7 linked regions of the Homo sapiens genome follow. The protein of the gene in region 4 purifies or fractionates together with the protein of the main gene of each other region. This does not show direct contact. Each region holds a gene or a part of one and is shown on either strand. Other genes may lie near its edges. The genes, in order: ALDH18A1, TAOK1, EXOG, SLCO3A1, JAG2, ACSL3 and NRXN3.

Region 1 (4,030 bases), on a different chromosome or scaffold from region 4:
ACAGCAGTTTATAGGGTATACAAAGAGCAGTATTAATACCATAAGGACACAATTGGGAAAATGTAGGCTGGGAAATCCTAAAGAATAAACAACTCAGTTTAACAAAAAATTACAAGGGGGAAAACTGATGGAGAAGGGAACCCATGAATGAAAGAGACTTGAGAGACACTTCAATTAATTTGTAATGCAGGGTTTAATTTGCATCTCAATTTGAGCAAGGTAAAAAAAAATTGGAAAAATATGAACACTGGCTATTTGATATGAAGGAAATCATTGAAATATTCCAGATAATGGATTTGTGGAGAGAGAAAGACATATAATTATATATTATATATAATATATATGATTATCTTTTAGCAGTTATTACTGAGCTATTTACAGATGAAATAACATGTCTGTTGCCTGGAATTTGTATTAAAACAATGGTGAGGGTATAGAGGGGTTATTGGAGAGTGGGAAGTTGGCCATGAGAGATAGTTGGTGAAACTGGGTGGTATGTACATGGGGATTTATAATACTATTCTCAGCACTTTGGTTAAGTATTAAATTTTCTTTTTCTTTTTCTTTTTATTTATTTTAGAGAGAGGGTCTTGCTCTGTCACCTAGACTGGAATGCAGTGGTGTAATCATAGTTCACTGCAGCCCTGAACTCCAGGGCTCAGTTGGGATCCTTCTTCAGCCTCCTGAGTAGCTGGGACTACAGGCACATGCTACTTGGCTATTATTTTTTTTAATTTTTCATAGATATGGGGTCTTACTATTTTGCTCAGGCTGGTTTCGAATTCCTGGCCTCAAGCAGTCGTCCCACCTCAGCCAGCTGAAACTTTCTGTGATAAAATATTATTGTCGGGGCCAGGCACAGTGGCTCACACCTGTAATCCCAGCACTTTGGGAAGCCAAGGTGGCTACTCAAGGGGCTGAGGTCAGGGGGTTGCTTGAGTCCTGGAGGTCAGGGCTACAGTGAGCCATGATTGTGCCACTGTCCTCCAGCATGGGTGACAAAGCAAGACTGTGTTTCAAAAAAAAAAAAGTTATTATTGTTTTAAATCATGGTTTATCATAGCTGTTTGTTAAACAGCTGGACCAGTTAAAAGGTTTCAGACATCAGAAGGAAAGGACAGTTTAGGAATATTGACTTTATTACATCTTGAGTCTTTAATTTTTTCATGTAGGTCTGCTTAAGGTAGGAAACAAAGTGACCGCATTTGGTCTTGGGCAGACAGAGCAGAACAAGGTCAGCATGTGCCCCTGGTGTAGGCAGAGGCAACCCATAGGATTAGACATGCCACCAGAACAGCCTCCTTTACCCGGGTTAAGCCTTAGAACCTGAGAAGCCATCTACTGAGTCTGCGTTGCATTTCCTACCTGCGGACTTTTATTCTGGGCTTCATTTCTTGGAGGAACTAGGCCTTCTGCATTACACACTCCCTGCAAATATTAGGTTGGCACAAAAGTAATTGTGGTTTTTGCCATTACTGTCAATGGTAAAACTGCAATTACTTTTGCACCAACCTAATACAGTCAAGTCCTATAGATGTCAAACTTGGCTACACACCAGAATTTCCTCATTAAAAATGTCTTACTTAGGCCAGGCATGGTGGCTCATGTCTGTAATCCCAATGCTTTGGGAGGCCGTGGCAGGAGGATGGATTAAGACCAGAAGTTTGAGGCCAGCCTGGGCAACATAGTGAGACTCTGTTTCTACAAAAATGTGTTAAAAAAGAAAAATTAGCTGGGCATGGTGGCATGAGCCTGTAGTTCCAGCTACTTGTGAGGCTGAGGCAGGAGGATCACTTGAGCCTAGGCAGCCAAGGCTGCAGTGAGCCACATTCATGCCACGGCACTCCAGCCTGGGCGACAGAGCAAGACTCTGCCTTAAAAAAATTTTTTTCTTAGGGTGTTGTTGTTGTTGTTGTTGTTGTTGTTGTTGTTGTTGTTGTTTTTGAGACAGCATCTCTCTCATTCTATTGCCCAGGTTGGAGTGTGGTGGTGCGATCATGGGTTACTGCAGTCTTAACCTCCCTGAGCTCAGGTGATCCTCCTACCTCAGCCTCCCAAGTAGCTGGCATGCACTACCATGCCTGGCTAAATTTTGTACTTTTTGTAGAGATTGGGTCTTGCCATGTTGCCTGGGTGGTCTTGAACCTCCTGGGCTCAGGCATTGTGCCTGCCTTGGCCTCCCAAAGTGCTGGGATTACAGGCATGAGCCACCATGCCCAGCCAATTGTTTTAATTAAAAAATAAATTAAAATGTCTGATTTTTGTCTGCCACCTGCTAAATAGAAATTTGAGACAGGATGTAGGAATCTGTGTTTTTACCAATCTGGCTGATTCTTCCAGAGCCAGCCACATGCTGGTTCATAAACCAGCATTTGGGATCTACTCGATAGCCCACCCTACCTCCATCCCTTGTGAAGAGATGAAAGAGACAGTACGGTAACTTACAGTCCCCTTTCCTTTCTCAATGCCCAGGTATCAGTGCTGCAGAATCAGGGCAGAGAGATGATGCTGGTGACCAGTGGAGCCGTAGCCTTTGGCAAACAACGCTTGCGCCATGAGATCCTTCTGTCTCAGAGCGTGCGGCAGGCCCTCCACTCGGGGCAGAACCAGCTGAAAGAAATGGTGAGTGCTGCTTCCCCACACATTGAAATGGATCTTCAGGTCTTCTTCCCTCATTCCCTACCACACCTTGTCTCATTGGTATATTACAGGCAATTCCAGTCTTAGAGGCACGAGCCTGTGCAGCTGCCGGACAGAGTGGGCTGATGGCCTTGTATGAGGCTATGTTTACCCAGTACAGCATCTGTGCTGCCCAGGTGAGAGGCTGGGCTTTGAAATGGGTGTGGGACCTGTGAGGGTGGTTGTTGTGGAACAAAGGGGTCTGGAGCCAGACTATTGGAATATGGTGTCAGCTTCATCACTTGCTACTTGAGATCTGAAGAAAGTTTCTTTTCCTTTTTGTGCCTCAGTTTCCTCATCTGAAAATGGGGATAATATCAGTGCCTATTTCAGATAATTTTTGGAAGGGCTCAGTGAGAAAATATATGAAAAGCATTTAGTATAGTGTTTGGTACATAATACATTGTCAGTAAATATCAGTTCTTGTTACACTAATAACTTAGGATTCCAAGTGCTAACACTTCTGAAGACAGAGAAGTTAAATGTCTTTATTTCACTGGCTTCTTTGATTTCAGGTGGCTTGCTTCTCTTTGCACCTGGTTGGTTGCCTTTTATAGCAGATATTTATTAAGCTTTGAAGGGAAAGAGGAATGCTGGTGATTGGTTGGTTTTTCACTCATTCAGCAAATATTTATTGAGCACCTATGGTGTACCTAGCAGTCTTGGGCATTGGGGATACTGTGGTGAACAAATCAGACATGATTCCAGTCCTCATGGGACTTACGAATTTTTGGTGGCTACCCCTAAATGTTCTAGAACCTTCTTTCTACATTGTTTCATTTTTACCTAAATCTCCTGAATTTTTTTGAATTATATTCTTAATCAACTGTACAACTACACACTAGAGACATCTCAATAACAGTCACTTCAGGAAACAACTGAAAAAAAAATCTAACTCCCAAATTATTTTATTTTGAAATTCCTTTACCTGTAAAGATGTAAAATAGCTGTTATTTTATATTATGGATATTATTTTACATGTACACTACATGCACAGATGTTATTTTACACAGGTGATATTGTTATATATACATATATTGTTTCAGGTTTTGCTTCTTCATTTCCTGTTACTTTTTTTTGTTTCTCCATCATTTGCCTGTTTGTACCCACAGTGATGTTCTGGTATTACACCAGAGTGTCCTCAAGTCAGTGAGGTAAAACAGAAAGGCACGGACTTGTCCCATTGCCTATGGCTGGGGACCCCACTTTCTGTAGTCTTAGCTTTTTTTCTGTTAGTATAAATACAGTATAAATCTCTATTTATATCACTCTTCTTTATTATTTGGTTTCTCTTCACAGTCCAATGACAACTTTGGTCTTTAATTTTTTTAAAGTGCCTGGAGCCAGGTGA
Region 2 (4,030 bases), on a different chromosome or scaffold from region 4:
GGAGCTCAAGACCAGCCTGGCCAAGATGGTGAAACCCTCATCTCTACTAAAAATACAAAAATCAGCCAGGCGTGGTGGCAGTCGCCTGTAATGCCGGCTACTCAAGAGGCTGAGGCAGGAGAATCACTTGAACCCAGGCGGCAAAGGTTGCAGTGAGCCGAGATCATGCCACTGCACCCCAGCCTGGGCAACAGAGTGAGACTCCATCTCAAACCAAACCAAACCAAACAAACAAAAAGCAGCACAAGAGCCGGGAGTGGTGGCTAACTCTTGTAATCCCAGCACTTTGGGGGGCCGAGGTGGGTAGATTGTCTGAGGTCAGGAGTTTGAAACCAGCCTGGCTAACATGGTGAAACCCCGTCTCTACTAAAAAAATATATACAAATTAGCCAGGCATGGTGGCACACACCTGTAATCCCAGCTACTCGGGGGGGTTGAGGCAGGAGAATCCTTTCAACCTGGGGGGAGGGGAGGCTGCAGTGAGCCAAGATCACACCACTGCACTCCAGCCTGTATGACAGAGTGAGACTTCCGTCTCAAAAAAAAAGCGGGGGGTAGGGGGGAGGCCGGGCAGCACAAGAAAGGGCAAACAAATATGAAACCCTGTAGCCACAAAGAAATAATCAGCATATTCTACTTAAAAAAAACCTGATAAGCAAATATCTCCCTTATTCTACATTTAAATTGGCATAAAAACAAATTATTATAATCTTCTGATCCAAAAGTAAGACATTATTGTTTACTTTTAAAGTAATAAATGTGATCAGGTGCGGTGGCTTATGCCTATAATCCCAGCACTTTGGGAAGCCGAGGTAGGCGGACTGCTTGAGCCCAGGAGTTTGAGACCAGACTAGGCAACATGGCAAGACCCTGTCTCTACAAAAAATAAATTTAAAAATCAGCCAGGAGTGGTGGTGTGTGCTTGTGTTCCCAGCTACTTGGAAGGCTAAAGCAGGATTGCTTGAGCACGGGAGGTCGAAGCTGCAGTGAGCTATGATTGTGCCACTGCACTCCAGCCCGTGGAACAGAATAAGACTGTCTCAAAAAATACACACAAAAAATAAAAACATAAGGCCAGGCACGATGGCTCATGCCTGTAATCCTAGCACTTTGGGAGGCCGAGGCAGGCGGATCACAAGGTCAGGAGATCGAGACCATCCTGGCTAACATGGTGAAACCCCGTCTCTACTAAAAAAAATACCAAATGTTTGCCGGGTGTGGTGGTGGGCGCCTGTAGTCCCAGCTACTAGGGAGGCTGAGGCAGGAGAATGGTGTGAACCCAGTAGGCAGAGCTTGAAGTGAGCCGAGAGCGCGCCACTGCACTCGAGCCTGGGTGACAGAGCGAGACTCTTTGTCTCAAAAATAAATAAATAAATATAAAATAAAAACATAAAAAAAGTATATTTTCAGGAAATGATTCATTTTAAATCCTACTCAACTAAATGACTCAGTTAAGGGTAACTGATTATAATCAATGTCATCATTTAAACTAATACCCATTTAGTGACCATAAACAACAAAAGATAATTTTATCCTAATGCTTCTATGAGTTGGTCACCATTGGATATAATTAATAAGCAGAAAATTTGCTTGGAAAGTTTTATGACATAAGTACCTCTTTAAGCTGCTCTTTTCGAAGTTTATACTCTCTTTTCTGGGACTCGAGAAAACTATTCAGTTCTTTCTTCTGTTGGGCCTGAATATGTTGCTGAAATTTTTTCTCTTCATTGGACATCACTTTAGCCTATATGAAGTTTAAAAAATGAATCAAATTTAGTTAAGTAGATAAAGTAGTGGTTTAATATACATCATTAAGAATACCTTTTATTTTCTAAGAACAAGAAATCATTAGAAACATTACCAAAATAAAAGACTGAACCAAATTATAAACATGTGCTACTTGGCATCCTTATAATTTGAACTTCATAGAATCAGTAAGATGAAACTCATCTTTGAAATGTTGATCTCTTACAGGGTCAAAAATGTTGTCAACTTTTTATTTCATTTAACAGAAGTATACCTTCCTCCCAACCCTCAATCCCTCAGTAAAACAAAACAAATGCTATATTTTATTTCTGATTCTATATGCAATACATGTTCATTGTAGAATATTTACAAAATACAGAAAAACAAGAAACATCTTACATAATTTTGGCATCCAGAGATAACCAATGTAAACATTTTGGTGCATATCTTTTGCAATTTTTTCTTTTTTTAAAATTATTATTTTTGAGATGGAGTCTTGCTCTGTTACCCTGGCTGCAGTGCAGTGGCACGAGCTCGGCTCACTGCAACCTCCGCTTCCCGGGTTCAAGTGATTCTCCTGCCTCAGCCTCCCAAGTAGCTGTGACTACGGGTGTGTGACACCACGCCTGGCTAATTTTTGTATTTTTAGAAGAGATGGGGTTTTGCCATGTTGGCCAAGCTGGTCTTGAACTCCTGAGCTCAGGTGATCCACCCACCTCGGCCTCCCAAAGTGCTGGGATTACAGGCGTGAGCCACCATGCCCGGCCTCTAATTTTTTCTATAAATGTTCATGTCTCAAACACACACACATACACATACACACATATATTTGCATGTATATAATTAAGTAGGTATTGTGGCTCATACCTGTAATCCCAACACTTTGAGAGGCTGAGGTGGGAGGATCACCTGAGCCCAGGAGTTCAAGACCAGCTGGGTAACAGGGCGAGTGCCTGTCTCAAAAAATATGTTACAGGGTCTCACTCTGTCACCCAGGCTGGAGTGCAGTGGTACAATCATGGCTCATTGCAGCCTCCTCCTGAGCTCAAGTGATCTTCCCACCTCAGCCTCCTGAGTAGCTGGAACTAAAGGCGTATGCCACCCTGCTCAGCTAATTTATTTTTTTTGTGTGTGGAGACAGAGTCTTCCCATGTTGCCCAGGCTGGTCTTGAACTCCTGGGCTCAAGTAATCTTCTCACCTCGGCCTCCCAAAGTGGTGGGATTACAGGTGTGAGCCACTGCACCCATCCTGGTTATATACTTTTAAAACAAATTTGTTACCACATTGCATATCTGCTTCAGGAATTGTTTTCCTAAATATGTTAGTATCGCCTTTTCCCAAGCTATTAAAAATAATATCTATCAAGTGTGGTGGCTCACATCTATAATCCCAGCACTTTGGGAGGCCGAGGCAGGAAGGTCACCTGAGGTCAGGGATTTGAGACCAGCCTGATTAACATGGTGAAACCCCTTTTCTACTAAAATAAAAATAATACAAAAATTAGCCAGGCATGGTAGATGAAAAATTAGCCAGGCATGGTAGATGCACCTGTAGTCTCAGCTACTTGGGAGGCTGAGGCAGGAGAATTGTTTGAACTTGGAGAGCAGAGGTTGCAGTGAGCTGAGATCACACCACTGCACTCCAGCCTGGGCGACAGAGGGAGATTCTGTCTCAAAAAATAATAAAAATAAAATAAAAAATAAAAAAATGAAAATATCCAATGCCCAGAGGATTTTAAATATGTATACATTGTTTCATCAAATTATTTCAAAATCAAGTATGTATTTATACTATAAATTATTTTGTCAGGGTCCCTACTACTATAAGAATGTTCTTTTTTTGTGAAAAGGGAGAAGAGGGTAGCTATGATAAATAATGCCTCACTGCAGACTACCTGGACATATTTTAATGATATTGTGTGAATTTACTGAGAAGTCTACATTCTACTTGACAAACATGGCTATCAAAAAAAGTAAAACAATGGGACACCAAAAACATTAGAAGAAAAGGTTTCACATAACAAAAATCCTAAAAACTAACTTTTATCATGTAAAATAATGACAATTATTTGTCAATAATCAAATGAGCTCAATCTGAATCTGAATCTTTCATAACTTATAATCTTCAACATTATCTGTATTTATTACAGTAATCTTAAATCATTCTGATATTAAAATGCTGCCAGAAATTCAAGGGTAGTTTCCAAAAAATACAAAAAAGAGAATAAAAGTGACTTTTTGAGACCTAAATCACCTAATGATAGGAGATTTAGCAAACTCCTCA
Region 3 (4,030 bases), on a different chromosome or scaffold from region 4:
ACCATTGCACTGCAGCCTGGGTGACAGAGTGAGACTCCATCTAAAAAAAAGAAAAAAAAAATACTTGCCATTTTTATCTGGTAAGTTGACAAAAACAGATTTTAAATGATAAATCCCAGCATTATAAAGATTGTTGTGAAACTGCTGTGTTGTATTTTAATTTTTTAGAGTAAATTGATATAACCCTATTAAAAGCTTATAGAGTAAATTGATATAACCCTATTAAAAATGTTAGTTTTACATATGATGACGAGTCTTTAAAATAAATTCATTCAGTAATTCTGGTCCTTGAAATTTATCCTAAGGAATTGATACAACGTTGCATTATATAAGAAATGTTAACATAAGCCCAATTGTCCTGCAAGAGGAATGGTTAAATAAAGTATATCATCTTGTTGGAATGATACATAATTCTTGAAAGCTGGTTGGGAACTATGGCATAAAAAAAGTTTTAAGTTCATGAAATTTGAATTCCAGAATGTACTCTGAGCGCACATAAAGAAAAATGTAGATAGTTTTGTTAGTGTATGTGATTTTTAAGTTTTTTCTGTGCAGTAAGCAAACTGGGAAAATAATTGTTTATATGCTTATAATGTTTTGTGCCATGTTCTTGTTTAATTTCTCAAATGCAGTTTTTCTTGGTATCTTTCATAGGAATTGATATGATTTGCTGCTGTCTTACATGTATATATGTGAGAATATCATACATTTTTTTATTTGTTTTTCAGAATAGAAATGTACTGTCGAGAGCTGACAGAAAGGTTTGAAGATGTTTGGGTGGTATCTGGGCCTTTGACCTTACCTCAGACTAGAGGCGATGGAAAGAAAATAGTTAGTTACCAGGTAAGGATGTTTAATAGTCAGGTTTATGTTATCTGTATGAGATTATAATCTCACTTTCCATTCTGCTTTTTATTTTTATTTTTATCATTCAAAAAAAATTTTGCATTCTACTTTTTAATTTCACTTATTCAACAATATTTATTGAACACCTATTAGGAATGATAGGCATAGGGAATATAGTGATGGATAAAAGCAACTATTGACTTCAAGGAACTCACGGTTTAGAGTGGAAAACAGATGTTAACAATTAATTACATTAAAGTGTGACATGCTGTAATAGAGGTAAACACACACAGTGTGGTCTTGTGAAAGGACTGATGGGCTCTACTCATATGAGTCAGGAACGCTTAAAAGAGGAAGTGATATTGAGCTATACCTTGACAGATAAGAGTCAGGAGTGGACCCTGAGGATTCCAGAGGATGGAGCAGGATGAGCACAGGACATTTGTGGTCAACATCAGGGTTTTGAGATTTATATATCATTCATAAAAATTGGAGCTTATGGTACAAAACAGTGTGGGTGGCTCAAGGGGTATGAAGAGTTCCATAACAACAGGTGGACGGGTGAGATAATATGCGACTTTCTATTCTATGATGAAGACTTGGGTTTTAATTTTTAGGCACTAAGAAGTCATAGATTTGTTTTAAGCGTGGGAGAAATATGATATTTGGGTTTTATAAAGAGTATTTTGGCAGCAGCGTGTAAAGAGATAGGTGGGAAAAGGGAGCATTTGAAGAAGAGATTAGAGGCAAGGAGATGAGTTAGGACATACAAGCAGTTGGAGTGAGGAATAATAGAGGAACACAGGAAAGAGTAACCATGAATAAATAACTTGTTTGAGTGAGGAAGAGGGAGAAGTTCCAGGATAACAACTAGATTGCAGACCAGGCTCAGTGGCTCATGCCTGTAATCCCAGCACTTTGGGAGGCCGAGGCAGGCGATCACGAGGTCAGGAGTTCGAGACCAGCCTGGCCAATATGGTGAAACCCCGTCTCTGCTAAAAATACAAAAATTATCTGGGTGTGGTGGCGTGTGCCTGTAGTCCCAGCTACTTGGGAGTCTGAGGCAGAAGAATCGCTTGAACCCAGGAGGCGGAGGTTGCACTGAGCCGAGATCGCACCACTGCACTCCAGCCTGGGCGACAGAGCAAGACTCCACCTCGAAAAAAATAAAAATAAAAATAAAATAAAAACAACCAGATTACAGTGTTACAGTGAGTTGAATAAATGGGAAGAAAAGCTTTTCTTCTAGAAGCTTCTTTTTTTTAATATGCAAGATATGTGAGCACTTTTATAGACTGAAAGAGAGATTAAAGATAGGAGAGTGTAATTAGTGGTGTGAGAGCTTCAGACATCTAATGTTGCTGGGAAATTCTTAGCTAGCCTTTCATATTGGCAATTTACAAAGTGGTATACCTGAAGAGCAGGTGTTCTTAGAAAAAGTTTAACATTTAATCTTATCATGCAGAAATATCCTGAGGATTCTTCCAAGAGGGTGGCTGAAATGTTATACTATACTGTGAGGCTTACAGAGGGCAGGGAACAGGTGGAGTGAAGCAGAAGAGGTGGTAGAGTGAGTAAAAAGAAGCACTGAAGGACTTGCTAATAAGGCCAAAGAGGAGGGGAGGGAACACCTAGCTCAGCTCTGGAAATAAAGTAGATATTTAATAAATGCTGGTTAGGTAAATGATTACTTAAGTCTGTGATAAAATTTAATAACCTGAGGAACAGATTGAGGAACCACCCCCCCCCCAAAAAAAAACCAAAACTTTTAGAGTATATTCTGTCCATTTGACTTGCTTATTATCAGCCTGTCTAGATCAGATGTGCAGTAATGTCCAAGCATCCAAGGATTTGTATAGGTCCATATGAATAGCCCACTTTCTCTTTTTCCACACAAAATTATGACCCAACTACTTCTTTTTGTTAAGTGGAAATGATAGAGTAGTTGTTTTCAAGGATTTGTACATCCTTGGAAAATTCCAGTAGATATGGGAGTGAAGGAAGTCAAAGGAATTAGTATTTTAAAATTAATTCATTTAATATCTCTCCTCCCATATTAATTTCTCTCCTCTGATTAACTTGCTAATTTAATTTTAGTATATTTTATAGTCTTAGGAGAAAAAAAGGCTTAAAGCCCCCTGTATTATTTTTCAAATATTAATTATTCTTGGTCTTTGTTAAATCCTGTTTATTTTATGTCAGAAAAGAGGCTCTTCTAGCTTTGACTTGTATATCTTAAATGGTTAAATTACAGTTTTATTTGTGCTTTGTTTTTATAAAATTGAAAAATTTATATCACTAGCCTACTGTGTAGTAGAACAAAAATTTGTACAATGTTTAAAACGAAAAATTAACCAATAATTACAAGCATTTCACTACATAGATTTTTGTGTGGCTATTTCTGTAAAATATGTGTTGCCCAAATGCCGTAGTGGAAAATGTATTGTTTTTCTTAAGTTGGATATAATTTTTAAAAATAGAACTGATAAAAATATATCTTCTAGTTGTTTCTGCTGAAAAGGCCCAGAAGAATTGGTATGTCATTAGCAATGAACACATCTTGAGACCCAGATATTTGTTTCTAAAAAGCATCTCCTGAAAAGACTCAGCGCTTAGAGAAATGACTGATTTAAGGGGTGGTACAGGGAGAGTACAAAATGGAACATCATATATCAGAAAGCCAAGGAAGTGCTCAGACAAATGGTGGGGATATGTCAGAAGGACATGTGAATCAGCTTGAAGGAGCTCCCACTTACTGTATCTGGTGCTATTGAATATCAAAATAAAATGGATTATAAACCTATTGAATTAAATAAGAATACATACTCAATAAATATGTAAATACATAGGGTGTAAAGAAAAGCTTCTGCATACCATAGAATGTCAGTTAATAAATTTGCGAGAATGAAAGAGTTATACAAATCATTTTGCACACATCACCATAATTGATTCAGGCAAGAGTCATCACTAGCTAAAACTAGTGAGTGAATGTTTTATGAGGAATAGGGTATTTACATAATCTAAAAGTATCTCCTCATACATTATTTATTAATCACAAAGTAAGAAATAACTTTACAGTGAAGAAACATCCCATTACCCAAGTGATCAAGTTTAGTATTGCTAGTAATGGGACTTAGTGAAACGCTGTACTCCTGGTGTGATGCACTGAGCAGGATAAAATATC
Region 4 (4,030 bases):
GACTTTTGTTGGTGCTAATGTCAACGAGCAGGGTTATACCATTACTGTTAAAGCAACTGTGGAATACTGTACCCTATGAGAAGTACTCTATCACATGACTATTTGTTTAAACCTCACAACCATCTGTAAGATAAGCTTGATCATTATCCCCATTTTTCAGATGAGGCTATTGAGGCTCGAGTAAGTGAAGTTGCCAGGAGCTGGGAAATAGCAAGTCTAAGTTCAAATCCAGGTCTTCCAACTCCAAGTCCAACATTCTTTCCACCTACCCTCAGCCTTCAGCACCCAGTGGCCACAGACCACAGCAAGAGATACTGAGGACCTCCCAAAGTGAAGCATCAGGGTACCTGCCCCGCCCAGCCAGTCCTGCCTGCCCTGCTTTAACCTCCTTCAAGTACCCATGGACTGTAAATGATCAACATGAATCACCATTCCTGCAGTGGGCTCCTCTCCCATGTGACTAATTTTTATAGCATCTTTAAGATGAAATGGATTGCTATATTTATAAGGGAATAAACAGAATTAGCAACTGATATTTAGCTTATTACTTGCCCTTAAAAACTTTTTACCTCCCAGACAAAAATGTCCATGTAGAATAGGAAACTACTTGAATATGCAATTCACTAAACCAAAACTAAAGTTTAATTGAAATAATTTTATTTCTCATTGGTTGGGGCTACACGGTTATTATGTTTGCAGTAAATATGCATAACCATATTATTATTAATAGTAATAGCTAATATTTCCTGGGCACTCACTATGTGCCAGATATTGTTCAAGGTGCTTTACATGTACTGACTCAGTTCATCCTCACAGCAAAACAGAGGGTAGGTACTATTATAACCCCAGTTATAAAATGAAAAATTGAGGTACACAGAGATTAAGTAAACAGCTCAAGGTCACAGAGCAGGTAAGGGGAGGACATAGGCATGAATCCCAGTCTTCTAACACTCATCGAATAAGCGACAGCTGCCACAGACACTTGCCTTTCTCCACCTTGGAACTGTAATCATTTAACTTGGAGTTTTAACCATTAAGCAATAATTTGTCTCATGCTAACACATAAACACTTAGGCTACATAAAATACAAGTGTCTTTGAATCACATCAATTCATTTATCCTATGAGCCAAGGTCCATGATTCCACTGTTTTTCCTGTTTATATCTGTTTTCCAGATACAGACATAGAAACCGAAAATAAAAATGAATTGAAAGAGTAAGGATGCTATCTTTCTGGCCTACAGATTACCAAAGGCATTTCCGAGAGGCAAGAAAATACCGAGATTTTCTTCAGGGGAGAACGGTTCCAAATCCATGTGTCAACCATACAGTCAAAGTTACCATTGAAATGTCCCTTCGCACCTTCAAAAAGTATGGCATACAATATTCATTGTATGCAACGCTGTACACAAACACGTATGTAAATATGCAATGCATGCGGCAATGTACAGAATAGAGTACATATGCAGAAGAGAAGTACTTTGACTCCACTTTAGAGAAACATGCTTATTAAATGATGCATGTAGTGAAATCTGCGCGAGTTGGAACTAAAGCCAGAGAAATGCAGCTAGTAGGGAGTTTTATTCTTCACTCTTTCTGCATGAAATGCAGCTGTATCCTCATCATTTTTGCAATACTACCCTTGTTCATCCAGGCCAATCTGCTAAGAGAATACAGTCCCTGATCAAGGCAGCACCTCAAAGTTTGCTTTTAGGTGTGCAAAATAAATTCACAGAGACCCTGTTGGTGGGGCTGCCTTTGCCCAGCAGTTCACCAATGACTTCGTGCAAGAAGCAGCCCATGCAGCATAACAGAAAACACGATTCCAGCAGCACCCAAGATGAGCTGCAAATGCTGGGCAATTGATTAGCAAGGCGGTGCCACTGCAGAGAGGCCTCTTGGCGATCCTTTTCATAAGGTGTCTAAAATTGAATGAGGGGAAGAGTTAACAAAATGCAGGATAGAGCCCTCGCTCATTTTACAACTCATTCAGTTTCTTCTATTGTTAAATACACCAACAAAAACCCCCTCACAAACAAAGATAAATACACAAACCTGGCTGAAAAGAATTTTCAGAAACACCTTTTTCCCTTAATAATTATTAACATTTTGAATCTAGCTATAAGGAAAAAAAAAATCAAGGTAATTTTATTTCTTACTACCTGGGGCTACATAGTAATTATGGAAATGGCAAGGAATTTTGTCACTTTGAGTAAGCATAAGTGTATAAAATAATTTGATTAAATAAAATACGGTTACCTTAGTCATCATAGTAATTTGACAAGGACTTTAAAAATGTCTCTCTCTGTTGAAAATGTCAACAGACAGTTTCCTGAGCTGTCTGCTTCTGGGTTGAATATGCAGAAACTCATCTTCGAAATGATGTTTCTTTAGAAAAAAAAAAGGAGTAACAAACCTAGCAGTTTCGCCTCACCCATTAATTGCAAGCCCACTTGACTATTCTCAGGCTGAAAGAAAAAGTGTGACTACAAAGCAGTGAGATAGAGCCTCATTAACCACACTCAGTCATCTATGTCATTATTTTGTCACCACAACCTCAAACTTATTTTTCTATAACTCTAAATAGGGAAATACCTACCCCTTGTTCACAGGAACTCCCTTTGTGCCCCACCCAGGAAACTAGACTGGCCTTTTTTCAGTTTTCAACCTGAGGAAATTCAAATGTATTTGTATGTATGCCTCAAACTAATCATCTAGAAGTGTCAGAGGCTTTAATTTCCTGTACACACCCTTATCTACTCCAGTCCTCAGTAATTTGATACCACACAGAAACCTCTATATGCAGGGCTACCCTCAGCGAGTGGCTTAAAACATTTTAGGGGGTCTCTGCAAAACACCAATAGGCACACACAAAATGACTTTCTCCCCATGCAGTTCTCATATGCCTGCATCTTCTCCAACCAGTCCAAGACTTAAGCACATGTTACATCCTTGCAAACAGGACTGGAGCCACTCGAAGCCAAAACCCAAGTAGAAGAAAATTAAATTGCATTCTCTGTTCCATACAAAATGACTATCAAACCGAGCAGGCCTCTCCTCTTATGCTGCAAAAATTATGTCATAGCCAGTCAGGAGGTTTAGGTGACTATGATGGAACATCCCTGTGACTATTGGTTTATCTGAAGCATGGTTTCCAGTTAAGATGTTTGTAACCGTAATAGATTTCAGAATCCACAGTTGGCCCAGGTTGCACCTGGGTTACTTTATCTAGATCACTGAGTCTGGCTTTCAGGATCAGTGTCTTTCTGTACTGCCTGACACCAAGGCAAAAGTTGCAGGCCCCCAGCCTAGCCTAACAATTGATGGCCTTATATACAATACAGTTTTCCTTTGAGTTTCCTCCCTGGGCAGGTTCTTGGTGGAAAACAAACACATGCATACATACACACACACACAGACACACACACACATTTTCTCTCTCTCTCTCTCACACACACACACACACACACACACACACACACACACACACGAGTCCTCCTTCTCAAAGTTGCTTCTTAAATCACAGGCAACCTTCTGCTTCAGTTCTGCAGTTGGGAAGCCTACACTAGTGTCATTCAGGACACTGAGAAATTTGTCTTTTCAGAAAAAAATAAGGAAATGAAACTGCAATATTTTAAGGCACCTGGGGAGATGAAATAAGAAGGTGGACTCTGGGAATCTAATAGGAAATAACATCGTTGGCATAGAATTTGTAACCACCCTCCTCTCTGTGAAAGGGAGCATTACTGGCACTGTCCCAAGGCAAGTCCTTCCTCAAGTATCTGGAAATGCCTCATTAGAGAGGCAGGCTGATTGCCAAGGTAAGGATCACGTATAACGCACACTTAGCACGTGGACCCTGCCCTGTGGTCCCCTACAGACACAAGGTCTCAGGTTTCCTAAGAAAGCCATGATGAATTAAAAGGAAGAAATGTGCCTTTCCTGCAAACAGCCTGCAATATTTCATTCTCCAATTATCCACAGAGAAGTCTCGCATGGCTGAAGGAGCAAACTTTTTTTCCCCATCTCCC
Region 5 (4,030 bases), on a different chromosome or scaffold from region 4:
CCGGTGACCCCCCGCCCGCTGACCGGCGTCCTCGCCCCCAGATCCCAACGACTGCCTTCCCGATCCCTGCCACAGCCGCGGCCGCTGCTACGACCTGGTCAATGACTTCTACTGTGCGTGCGACGACGGCTGGAAGGGCAAGACCTGCCACTCACGTGAGTGTCCGCAGGCCCTGGCCGCCTGGGGCTGCCCCCAGGACCCTGGCCCTGGCGGTCTGGGGCCTGCCTGCTGAGCGGCCCATGTGCCAACAGGCGAGTTCCAGTGCGATGCCTACACCTGCAGCAACGGTGGCACCTGCTACGACAGCGGCGACACCTTCCGCTGCGCCTGCCCCCCCGGCTGGAAGGGCAGCACCTGCGCCGTCGGTGAGGAGCCCCCGCTGCCTCTGCGACCGCCGGGCATATGCCCTCCCAGGCACCGCTCCCTCGGGCGCGATGGGCCGAGGGGTCTTTTTTGAGGGCCACACCTGCCACCTGCCCCCTGCCCCCTGCCCCCGGGTCTGTCTGCCCTGTCTGGGTTGGGGGCGCGGTATGGAGACCCAGGGCCAGCCCAGGGCCAGGTGAGACGCTCCCTCCTCCTCCTCTCCTTACAGCCAAGAACAGCAGCTGCCTGCCCAACCCCTGTGTGAATGGTGGCACCTGCGTGGGCAGCGGGGCCTCCTTCTCCTGCATCTGCCGGGACGGCTGGGAGGGTCGTACTTGCACTCACAGTGAGTGTGGGAGGGGTGTGGGCGGGGGCCGCTTTCCTCCACCCAGATGACATCCCTGCCCCCGACTCGCCCCCCAGTCCCTTCTGCCAGCCCCTCCCCCTGCTGCCCCTGCCCCCAGCAAAAGGCACCCTCCTTGATGACCCTCCCCAGCCCCACAGCCTGATCACGCCAAGCCAGCCTGGACAGTGCCTGGCACGCTTGGGGGGTGGGTACTGATCCCCTGCGTTCTCTTCTCCCAAACCAGATACCAACGACTGCAACCCTCTGCCTTGGTGAGTGGCACCCTGGGGGCCACAGCAGGGGTGGGTGGGACTTGGCATACCACGGGGGGCCACCTGATGCCCACCCTCTGCTCTGCAGCTACAATGGTGGCATCTGTGTTGACGGCGTCAACTGGTTCCGCTGCGAGTGTGCACCTGGCTTCGCGGGGCCTGACTGCCGCATCAGTGAGTGGCCAGACAGCCCCAGCCCTGGGAGCCCCTCAGCCCAGCCGCGGTGTCAGGAGTCTGGGGACATCAACGTCCACGTCCCTTGAAGGGCAGTGTGGCCACAACTACTTCCTGCCTCTCTTCTGAGCCTCAGTTTCCCCACATGTCTGTGCCCTGTGGGGTTCCTGCTGTATACCCTGCCAAGTGATTAAGTGGGGAGCCCCAGCCTGGGGGACCAGTCCGGGGCCCAGGGAGCTGTGGGGGTTGGAGCGTGCAGCCTGACGTGGGCTCCTCTGTGGCCGCAGGGCTGTTGTCCCTGGGTGTTGGCCCAGCTGTCTGTCCAGCACCCCTTGGCTGGTCCGACGCAGCAGCTGGGGCTAATCCAGGATGGGACAGGCCCACTGCAGAAGCAGACGGAGGAGGGTGCTGTTGGGCCAGGGTCAGGCTGGGCTCAGGAAGGCCTCAGGCAGGCAGCAGCTTGGGCTCGGGGGCAGGGGCTGCTCCTCATTGTCCTGGGGCTTGCGCCTGTGTGCCACTGGCTCCCCGCTGCCCTAGGCCATGCCGGTCCTGCGGTGGGCGTTGGCCTCACTGCACTGAGCAGCGGTGGCTCTCCCTGCAGACATCGACGAGTGCCAGTCCTCGCCCTGTGCCTACGGGGCCACGTGTGTGGATGAGATCAACGGGTATCGCTGTAGCTGCCCACCCGGCCGAGCCGGCCCCCGGTGCCAGGAAGGTAGGCCCCGTGTGATTGCCCTGGGTTGGGGCGGGTTGGGGGGCATGGGTGACACCCAGCCCCGAGGGCCAGATGCCCACTGCTGACCCTCGAGCCCCTTCTCCCCACAGTGATCGGGTTCGGGAGATCCTGCTGGTCCCGGGGCACTCCGTTCCCACACGGAAGCTCCTGGGTGGAAGACTGCAACAGCTGCCGCTGCCTGGATGGCCGCCGTGACTGCAGCAAGGTGAGGGCAGCCCGTGAGCCGCCCTGCCCTACCCGAGGCTGGTGCACGCTGACCCTGGCCACTCTGTGAGATCAGGAGGCGGGTGCTGGGGTCCGGATGGACTGAGAGCCGTCTGCCCTCAGGGACACCCAGGGAGGCGAGAGCTCAGCCAGGCCCCATGCTTCGATGTGCAGTTGGGAAAACAGGCCTGGTCTGGGTCCTGCCTTGCTCCGCCTGCCCTTTCTGATGTCGAGCTTGGCCTGCCTCCCTGGGAGCCCTGGGTAGGGGGTGGGCTGGGCCCTGGGGCTCACAGACTTGGGCGGTGTCCCTCCTTGGCATGGGGCCCGTGCCTGCCTGTGGGTTCTCATCTGTGTGCCTGCATCTGACCCTCCTGTGCGCCTGCGCCTGACCCTCCTGTGCGTGCCTGCCCAGGTGTGGTGCGGATGGAAGCCTTGTCTGCTGGCCGGCCAGCCCGAGGCCCTGAGCGCCCAGTGCCCACTGGGGCAAAGGTGCCTGGAGAAGGCCCCAGGCCAGTGTCTGCGACCACCCTGTGAGGCCTGGGGGGAGTGCGGCGCAGAAGAGCCACCGAGCACCCCCTGCCTGCCACGCTCCGGCCACCTGGACAATAACTGTGCCCGCCTCACCTTGCATTTCAACCGTGACCACGTGCCCCAGGTGAGGGGCCTGGTGGCATCTGAGCTTGCAGAGGCCACACGCCGGCATCTGCTCGTGGCATGGCGAAAGCCTAGCCCCGCAGGGCAGGGAGGCCCTGGTTGGCTGAGCAGAGTCACTCTTGGTCACAGAGAGTGGCCCTGTGGGGTCAGATGAGAGGGGCATTGGGCCTGGTGCTGGGTGGAGGTGGCAGAGGAGGCTGGGAGAGCAGCCAGCTGGGGGTGCCTGTTTGTCCAGCTGCCCTGAGGGCCTGGACTGACGGCGCCATGGCTGCCTGGCCCCAGCTCTTGGGCTGTAGCTCCGTGGGCAGTTTTGCCCTGGCCTAGGAGCCACCTTTGCCTGCTGTGTGCTTGGAGCTGGGCCCCTGTCTCCCAGGAGGGGCTCAGAACTGGAGGAGACCCACTGTACCCCGCCCTGCCTCTCCTTCCCCCACTGGCCTGCAGGTGGAGCTGGGTCCGCCCTGAGGATGGGCGGGTGGGCACCGTCACTCCTGCCTCCTGGTATAGGGCACAGCCGGGTGGGAAGCTGCCCCCCCAGGCCCTTGGCATCCTTGCTGTGCTCTCCTGGGCGGGCTGTAGGGTGTGTCCCACGTGTACCCACAGCGCCAGTCCAGGGATGTAGGTGTCAGGTTCACGGCCCTGCCCTGCCCACGCACTGCCTGTCTCTGCCCAGGGCACCACGGTGGGCGCCATTTGCTCCGGGATCCGCTCCCTGCCAGCCACAAGGGCTGTGGCACGGGACCGCCTGCTGGTGTTGCTTTGCGACCGGGCGTCCTCGGGGGCCAGTGCTGTGGAGGTGGCCGTGGTGAGTGCCCAGTGGGGAGCAGCACCTGGGTGGGCCCTGGGTCCCGTACTATGCAGGTCCTGGCTATGCTGGACAGAGGCTCTGGCGAGGCTAGTCCTGGTGCGGAAGGACTGCGGGCAGGCCTGTCTCCCTGCGGCCCCTCGCTGTCCATGCCGCAGACCCGTGGAACTGCTCCCTGGGCCTGGCCAGCATGAGGGAGATGCAGGGCTGTGGTGTGGAGCCCGCTTCCCCTGCAGCTGCATCCTCGCCCGGTCCCCTGCTCTGTTTTTGTCTCTGTGTCCCTACGTCACAGGCAGCAGGAGAGTCCGTGGGCTTAGTCTGCCCTGGGAGGCCTGCTTTGGGACTGGCACCTGCCCTGGACCTGGGGGGTGTCAGATGTGAATGGATACCAAGGGGGTCGGGTGAGACTGGGGTGGAGACATGCCCGGAGAGGGGAGGGAATGTTCTGGAACATGGTGGGTGGGTGTGCAGAGCAGTGG
Region 6 (4,030 bases), on a different chromosome or scaffold from region 4:
TTGGCCCCCAATAAGAATTTCACCCCTGGGGTGTGGCTTATCAGTATTAAAGTATCCACCTAATAAAATAATAATTGAGTTAATAGTTGAGTTAAATACAACACATGAAAATTTGAAACTACTAGTTTCTAAACAGTCATCTTATTTTAATCCAATTAGAACTTCCCAAAGGAAAAAAGGCAGACACTATGAATGAACAAAGTTTATCAATTTAACAGTAGGCACAAAATCTCAGTTGCTAAACCATAAGTATTTATGTTTTCAAACTTCTATTCTGAGAAAAAAATTAAACTCTAAAACCCAACATCTTCCATTTGTTGTATAAAATTATAAATACAAGAGACAAATTATTTGAAAGATTCTGCAACATCTTAAATATCATATTGATAAACTGACAGAAGTATTAAGTCATGCAATTAATAGAACAAATCCCTATATAAGAATGAGTTACTGCTGGGCCAGTGGCTCATGTCTGTAATCACAACACTTTGGGAGGCCAAGGAGGGTGGATCGCCTGAGGTCAGGAGTTTGAGGTCAGCCTGGCCAACATGGTGAAACCCCACCTCTACTAAAAATACAAAAAATTAGTCGGGCATGGTGGCGCACACCTGAAATCCCAGCTATTAGGGAGGCTGAGGCAGGAGAATCACTTGAACCCAGGAGGTGGAGGTTGCAGTGAGCCGAAACCATTGACACTGCACTCCAGCCTGGGCAACAAGAGCAAAACTCCGTGTCAAAAAAAAAAAAAAAAAAAAAGTGAGTTACTACATATTAAGATTTATTCTTATAGATAATTTCAAAATGACTCCAAGCCTAAATTTATTAAATATTCCCACTAATTCTGCTAAAGATAGCTAAAAGACATCCAAGCCTTAGAATCTTTCTTTATTTATTTATTTTGGAGATGAGAGTTTCGCTCTGTCACCCAGGCTAGAGTGCAGTGGCGCAATCTTGGCTCACTGCAACCTCCACCTCCCGGGTTCAAGTGATTCTCCTGCCTCAGCCTCCCGAGTAGCTGGAATTACAGGCACGCACCACCACGCCTGGCTAATTTTTGTATTTTTAGTAGAGACGGTTTCACCATGTTGGTCAGGCTGGTCTCGAACTCCTGACCCCATGATCCGCCCGTCTTGGCCTCCCAAAGTGCTGGGATTACAGGAGTGAGCCACTGCGCCCGGCCAGAATCTTTATCTTTACTTAATGTAGAGGAAAGGTGCATCCCAATAAAACACAGATAATTTGTATATTTTAACAGGATCAAATAAATTTTTAAGTGACCATTATTTTAAATGGCATGAGAATAAACAGACTTCTATGGAATTGCAGTGAAAATTTCCTTCTAATAATACAAGGTTGAAGCCCTCAGAAAAAAAAAGAAAAAAATCATTTAAAAATCCACAATTTCATAAAATAAATTTTATAATTTTACTTCTGCAAAATAAAGTTATGATCACTCCTAATTTATTGACATTATTCACTTATTAGTACATTTCTCAAGTTTTTGCCATAATTCTTACTTGCATCTACGTAATAAGTAAAATGAAAACAATAATAGTTCTTCAGAAACATCTTTGAAACAAGAAAAATAAATGCATTCATATAGTTCGAGATAAAACACGTCTATCACAAAGGACAAAAATGAGCACTTATGGGTGTTTACATTCTAAAGCAAGAAAGTGAAGCACTAATTTTCAAGTTTAATACTTTAAAAATTAATGCTCTGTGGTTAAAATAGTTTATTACCTTCCTCCCAGTTTTTTAATTTGATTTCACAGCAAACTAATGGTGCTCCCACTCTGCCAGTATTGTAGTCCCACACTAGGAATTAAATGAAAAAAAGGATATTTGAGAACAGTAGCTAATACACTGCTTCATTTTTCTAAATTACCAAAAATGATTATTTATCCTAAGGCTGAGGTATCCCCAGCTATTCCTTAAAAGCAGAAGTCACATATTGGTGAAGCACAGGCCGTGAGGCCTGTAGAGTCGTATTTTTTGGCCTACATTGAGGTTTTTTTTTTTTTTTTAAATTAGTTATTGTCATTCTTAAAAAATCAGGAAATTTTAGATGTAAGTGTGGAATCGCCAGCAACAATGGGCCCACATTTCAGGTACAGCAGAACTGACGGCCTCTGTTAGAGAGGGCATGCCTGCTCCTGTTCCCTCAGAATCAATCCTTACCCATCACATTGTCTTACATTAGGGCCCACTTGACTCATTTAAATAGGTAGCTGCCTGGTTCTTGAGTTTGAAATCCCTGTCTTAAAGGATGATGAAAACAATGGTTTACGTCTATTCTACTTTCTTATTAGGCCTCACCGATGTGCAGTATAAAACACCTCTCTAATCTTTTCCCATGTAATGTATCACCATTTCAAAGTGAGATCTCTGCAGGCTTCCATCAGCTTATGCTATCACACCCTATTTAAAATTAATACAGCAATAGCTCAAGAGCCAGGCTGAAGAATAAGACTGGTGGCTTTCAAGGATGTGAGGAAAGAACCCTCCACTATTATGAATTACTATTGCATTATGTTTCCTCTTCAAAGACCAAATATCAGAAATGAAAGGCTGATATTTAACATTTTAAAGACTTTTATTTAAAACATAAACTGTTACTGATTAATCATTCAATTTGAATCTTAAAAATAGAAGAAATTAAGGATCCTCAGAAGAAAGAAATCCCCTATGCATGTATTTAAGATTGCTTATTTCCTACAAAACATGACTTAGAACTAGCTTCCAAAAATATACGAAAACAGAGAACATAACTGAAAAACAGAAAAATGAAGTAATACATGAAAATGGTATACAGAGCCACTCAAAATAAATAGGGAAAAATCAGTCATGAGGTTTTGTATCTATCCGTATATGGCAAATACAAAGTAGGAGAAGCACAGCTGTATCCTGTACCGGAAAGCAAAATAACTTTCTCCCATAAAAGGGACGCATGAGGCCCTATGCGATTCATCTCAGAACTGCTGATTAGTTGGTAGATCTCCTCCTCAAACACAACCACATGATAAACTCTGGTAATAATATTCCCTAGACCAGAACTTAGTTCCTTCTCTAACACTTACAGAAATCCTCATAAACATTTCTGAACCTGAGCCTTAATATACTCACCTACACAAATAAACAAAAGCACCTTAAGTTTTCTACATAAAAAGAAATTTAATCACTGATGTGAGAAAATAAATGTACACAAAACAGTCAGTGTTTGTTACTAAAGTTTCTCTTCCAAAATGCTAAGTGGTTTTTAATATTACCTATCAGTTTGATATAAAAACTTCTCCAGATAAATTATTGACTCCAGATGCATCTAATACATTCTAAAAATTGATATCAATGATCATAGTACTTGGAATCCACCATTATTCTGCCTCACAAACACCTTACTACTCTTCTCCTATATATTTGCAGAAAATATCCCATACCCCAAAAAAACGTCTGGCATCACACTCCAGCCTCTGACCATGGAGAACACTACCTTCGGAAATTGTTCCAGCCCCAGCAGATTCAGTGAGCCCGTATCCCTGACCAACAGGACAGCAGAAACAGATGTTCATGAATCGCTGCGTGGTTGCAGAAAGTGGAGCGCCACCACACAACAGGAGACGAATATTTCCCCCTAGCAAGCTTCGAACTTTCCGGAAAACAAAGCTAAAGAAAAAAATTAGAGAACCACAGGATTTTAAAACTGAATGGGATTTTCCAAATCACTTAAACTAATCCCCCAGTTTTGATATGAGAGATTTTGAGATTAAGTTACTTATCCAAGGTCACACAGCCAATTTGGAGAGTCTCTTGAGCCCCAAATGTTAATTTTTTGAAGTTCAACAAGGTAAAGAATTTATTATTTCCTCTTAAGAGCTTTTCAAGTGATATTCGAATTTGAATTGTCAGGTTTAGTTTTGTATAGTGACAGGAAAACCCTTGCTTATGGCCACTTTTATATCATTATTTACATAAAATATTTATCATATATTAATACTGAACAATTCTATCATCTTTATGAAATGTATTAAAA
Region 7 (4,030 bases), on a different chromosome or scaffold from region 4:
AGACAGCTCCAGACGGATGTCATTATTCTTATAAACAACCTGTCAAAAGCCAAACAAAAGTGCCATGTGAATCAATCTTGCAAACAGTATCCATCCATCACTCACTGGGCACCTGGAAAAATGACCCAAAAAGAGGCTTCAGGACATAGCCCAAAACAACATGAGAAACAATGAGACACAGGAACCAAAAAGGTATCTGAAGAAACATCTGATGTGCACACAAGCTCCAAAAAAGCCTCTATATTTCTACAGAATTTCTTTTGTCTCCTGGCCAATTTCTTGTGTTGTCAGAAAGTTATACAACATAAGCTTGCAAATAAAAATCAAGAGAGATCGAGTTGCATGGATTCACATACTTCATACAAAGTGATTTACTGAAGCACCCTTAGTAAAATACCAGAAACAACCTAAATGACCATCAATAGCAGATGGCACAGCGTTATAATGGAATATTAGGCAGGCCTTGCAAACAAGGTATTGCTTTTGGTTTTGATGTGGAAGCTCTCCAGGTCACATTGTTAAGTGAAATTGTCAAGGAACAGGATAGAGGGTGCATTATGTTATCATTGTGTAAAAGTGTGGGGGCGTGGGGGCATTATATGTATATATGCTCCAGTAAGCATAAAGTCTCTTTGGAACTATAAAATTGTCATTGGGGAGTATATTTGCGGGATTAATATTCTGGAGTGGGAGGGTGACTTACTTTTCACTGTGCCCTCTTACAGTGTTAGACTTTTTTTCAACCATGTGGATATATTACTTGAAAGAAAAGAGTAAGTGTTAAAAGCTGGTGGGGACAGAGGTCTGTTTTTGTTTTTATTTTTTGCACATTGCATGTGCCCTCTGTACAGTGGTAGAATGAGACACCCTGAAGCCCTATTTCAGCCAGTCAGTCAAGGACATTGATTTAGTTGAGAGTCTGATTTTACAAAGAATACTGAACCAGATACTAATTCACCTTGCAAGGGGGTCCAGCAGAGCTTTCTGCCTCCATGCCCTACCCAAGGTTAGTGTACACTTCTGCAAAGCCATGGCCACTGTCCTGCAGAGTGGGTAGGTAGGTGGAGAACGTGAGGATGGCAGTTAAAAAAATCTGTTATGACTGTCTAACAGCCACTATGGAAAACAGTGTGGAGATCCCTTAAAGAACTAAAAGTAGAACTACCATTTGATCCAGCAATCCCACTACTGGGTATCTACCCAGAGGAAAAGAAGTCATTATAAGAAAAAGATACTTGCACAGGCATGTGTATAGCAGCACAATTTCCAATTGCAAAATTGTGGAACCAACCCAAACGTTCATCAATCAACAAGTGGATCAAGAAAATGTGATATATATATATGAATACTACTCAGCCATAAAAAGGAATGAATTAATGGCATTTGCAGTGACCTGGATAAGACTGGAAACTATTATTCTAAGTGAAGTAACTCAGGAATGGAAAACCGAACATTGTATGTTCTCACTGATATGTGGGAGCTAAGCTATGAAGACGCAAAGGCATAAGAATGATACATGGACTTTGGGGACTTGAGGGGAAGGGTGTGATGAGGGTGAGGAATAAAAGACTACAAATAGGGTGCAGTGTATACTGCTTGGGTGATGAGTGCACCAAAATCGCACAAATAACCACTTAAGAACTTATTCATGTAACCAAACACCACCTGAACCCCAATAACCTATGGGAAAAAAATCTGTTATGACTTTCTAAACCAGGTATAATCCATCTAAAAGCAGAAATTAATCTTTCTCCATGAAATTAGAATTTCAAAAAAGTTTTACTCTTATTTGAACTGAAATTTGATACAGTACCCTGGAATGGTTTTTGGCGCTCTGATCTCTGAGCAATGTCGTATCCATAAAAACTTAATAAGCAGAAAACAATGGAAGGGAAATAGACAAGGATCTGAGTATTGAGCGTCCCAACTATTTTCCTATTTTCTTTATATTACCTTATTCAAATTCTAAGTCAGGACCCAGATTTAGGTTTGAATTCCACATTTACTACTTACAAGCTATGTGACTTTGGCAAAGTAAATTTTCTGAGTCTGTTTCCTCTCCTGAAATTGGGAACATAGGAATAAACAAACTATTTATTTTGTAATAATAAAATGATTTAAAACATGTGAAGCACTTAGGAATGCAATATCATAAGGGCACAAAAGTCGCAGCTATTTGGAGGGTTATTGTTAATCTCATTTCGCTATTTCCACAGCCCTGAAAAGGTTGCATTATCATCTCCAAAACAACAATGGCTAATTTCTAAAATAAGCCTCATCTGTCCATATCTGTGAGACAAAGTTAATTGGATGGGTCACTCCAGCACATATCATATAATCCCCAATATTTAAATGTAGAATTAGTTCCCATCTCTCATCACCAGGAGAGAATCAAGCAAAGCTGTTTGCATTCTAATGGATATTACAAGAGTGATATATAACTATGGCGAAGCATTGAAAATGACTCACTATTATGTAACCTTGACCGTGGACCTAACCATAGTCAATAACATTGAAAATAATGATACTAACACTTATTAAGCACCTACCACCAGGCACCATGGTAAGGATTTAACACCTCTCCATCCCATTAGATACAGACAACACCCATTTGAGATACCTGTAATCATTGCCTTATTTTACAGATGCAGAAACAGACACAGAGAGCAGTTAGGGAACCGGCCCACAGGCACACAGCTGATAAGTGGCAGAGCAGGACTTGAACCTAGGCATTTGGGCCCCAGGGTCCATATGCTCAGAACCAGGCCCCACTAGCAGCACCTGTGAGGCTTATCTTTAACATTACATGGAAAGTCATGCATGCTCAACTTCACAATTCAAAAGCTGAATTTTTCATTTTAGCTAAACTGGGCTGACCATGTGCAAAGGGAAATATTGCAGGATCCTCAGGCAATCACTCAAGTGAGTAAACCAGAAAAGAAATCATAAAAGTTTAATGAGTGTCAGCTTCTCCTTTCTAACCTTCACTATTATACCTTAGCATGTGAGAACTCTTTGTCATAAACAAACTTTGGCTTTTTCTGCATTTGGGTTAAATGCCTGTGACTAGAGTTCCTAGTAAAGGTTAATTATTAATGTATAACAATAGGTCATCCCAAAGGGACAGAAGGAGGTTTGGCTCCATGGAACAATAAATAGAAAGAGAGATCAGGCATTGCTACAGCAGGCTGGGGACAGAATAAAAAGGAGGGAAAAAAAAGCCTTTTAACAAGATACAAGAGCAGTGAAGAGGAACTCTTCTGTGAGAAGGGTACCTAACTGAGACTGGGAGAGAAGGTGAATAGCCGGAATGAAGATTTCTGAAGACATAGGTAAGAGAAGCAAGGGCCAGAAACTGGCCAGACAGAGATAACCAGACTTCTCTCAAAGGCTCTTTGAGGGTGAGTGCTCTATCTACTCCATGGCCCTGAAATTACCTGTCTATTTATATGGAGTTTTCACTGTTGTGAATAAAAAGCCAACACCACTCTCACTGACAGCTGAATAACCCTTCTGAGTCCCATTTTATTTATTCCAAAGGTAAGAGCCTCGATATCTGTTCCACAAACTGTCCCTCTTTCCCAGCTCACAGGGCTGTTGTCAAGATCAAGTGGGATGTTAGACATAGTAGGACACAGACAATTCTAAACCGGCACACAAACCTAGGAAGAAATAATCCTATATCTTCATCTCCCATGGTGTTGGGGTTCTGTTGGAAATGGATAGGGTCCTGAATTGAGGTTCTGTGAAGGTTTATCTACCAAGAGGAAAAGGACAGGAGGGCAAGGGACTTGTAGCCCAGTGATGCTCAACTGGGACTCTCCATTGTTAATATCTTCACCTTCCCCACCTGCTCTGTGCAGAACCACAGCCACAGCCACGCAGAAGTGTACTGGCACCCTGGGTCAGCATGGAGGCAGGAAACCCTGCTGGACCCCCTTACAAGGCAAATTATTGTCTGGTACAATGTTCTCTGTAAAATCAGACTGTCAACTAAATGAATGTCCCCAAATGGCTGGCTGAAATAGGA

The links.
Region 1: the proteins of SLCO3A1 (region 4) and ALDH18A1 purify together in Homo sapiens (affinity purification with mass spectrometry; one large-scale study listed by BioGRID and IntAct). This does not show direct contact.
Region 2: the proteins of SLCO3A1 (region 4) and TAOK1 purify together in Homo sapiens (affinity purification with mass spectrometry; one large-scale study listed by BioGRID and IntAct). This does not show direct contact.
Region 3: the proteins of SLCO3A1 (region 4) and EXOG purify together in Homo sapiens (affinity purification with mass spectrometry; one large-scale study listed by BioGRID and IntAct). This does not show direct contact.
Region 5: the proteins of SLCO3A1 (region 4) and JAG2 purify together in Homo sapiens (affinity purification with mass spectrometry; one large-scale study listed by BioGRID and IntAct). This does not show direct contact.
Region 6: the proteins of SLCO3A1 (region 4) and ACSL3 purify together in Homo sapiens (affinity purification with mass spectrometry; one large-scale study listed by BioGRID and IntAct). This does not show direct contact.
Region 7: the proteins of SLCO3A1 (region 4) and NRXN3 purify together in Homo sapiens (affinity purification with mass spectrometry; one large-scale study listed by BioGRID and IntAct). This does not show direct contact.

What each region holds. Positions count from the first base shown.
Region 1 is NC_000010.11:95,635,879-95,639,908, reverse strand, and holds part of ALDH18A1 (delta-1-pyrroline-5-carboxylate synthase), read left to right. Parts: intron 1-2,472; coding exon 2,473-2,622; intron 2,623-2,711; coding exon 2,712-2,816; intron 2,817-4,030. UniProt on the Homo sapiens protein: Bifunctional enzyme that converts glutamate to glutamate 5-semialdehyde, an intermediate in the biosynthesis of proline, ornithine and arginine.
Region 2 is NC_000017.11:29,508,578-29,512,607, reverse strand, and holds part of TAOK1 (serine/threonine-protein kinase TAO1), read right to left. Parts: intron 1,745-4,030; coding exon 1,616-1,744; intron 1-1,615. UniProt on the Homo sapiens protein: Serine/threonine-protein kinase involved in various processes such as p38/MAPK14 stress-activated MAPK cascade, DNA damage response and regulation of cytoskeleton stability. Phosphorylates MAP2K3, MAP2K6 and MARK2.
Region 3 is NC_000003.12:38,506,126-38,510,155, forward strand, and holds part of EXOG (nuclease EXOG, mitochondrial isoform 1 precursor), read left to right. Parts: intron 1-728; coding exon 729-843; intron 844-4,030. UniProt on the Homo sapiens protein: Endo/exonuclease with nicking activity towards supercoiled DNA, a preference for single-stranded DNA and 5'-3' exonuclease activity.
Region 4 is NC_000015.10:91,856,489-91,860,518, reverse strand, and holds part of SLCO3A1 (solute carrier organic anion transporter family member 3A1), read right to left. Parts: intron 1-4,030. UniProt on the Homo sapiens protein: Putative organic anion antiporter with apparent broad substrate specificity.
Region 5 is NC_000014.9:105,144,451-105,148,480, reverse strand, and holds part of JAG2 (protein jagged-2 isoform a precursor), read left to right. Parts: intron 1-41; coding exon 42-155; intron 156-251; coding exon 252-365; intron 366-592; coding exon 593-709; intron 710-953; coding exon 954-981; intron 982-1,069; coding exon 1,070-1,155; intron 1,156-1,756; coding exon 1,757-1,870; intron 1,871-1,980; coding exon 1,981-2,096; intron 2,097-2,507; coding exon 2,508-2,750; intron 2,751-3,419; coding exon 3,420-3,551; intron 3,552-4,030. UniProt on the Homo sapiens protein: Putative Notch ligand involved in the mediation of Notch signaling. Involved in limb development.
Region 6 is NC_000002.12:222,926,650-222,930,679, reverse strand, and holds part of ACSL3 (fatty acid CoA ligase Acsl3), read right to left. Parts: intron 3,664-4,030; coding exon 3,491-3,663; intron 1,819-3,490; coding exon 1,744-1,818; intron 60-1,743; coding exon 1-59. UniProt on the Homo sapiens protein: Acyl-CoA synthetases (ACSL) activates long-chain fatty acids for both synthesis of cellular lipids, and degradation via beta-oxidation.
Region 7 is NC_000014.9:78,705,226-78,709,255, reverse strand, and holds part of NRXN3 (neurexin 3), read right to left. Parts: intron 475-4,030; exon of another isoform or gene 40-474; coding exon 1-39. UniProt on the Homo sapiens protein: Neuronal cell surface protein that may be involved in cell recognition and cell adhesion. May mediate intracellular signaling. Functions as part of a trans-synaptic complex by binding to cerebellins and postsynaptic GRID1.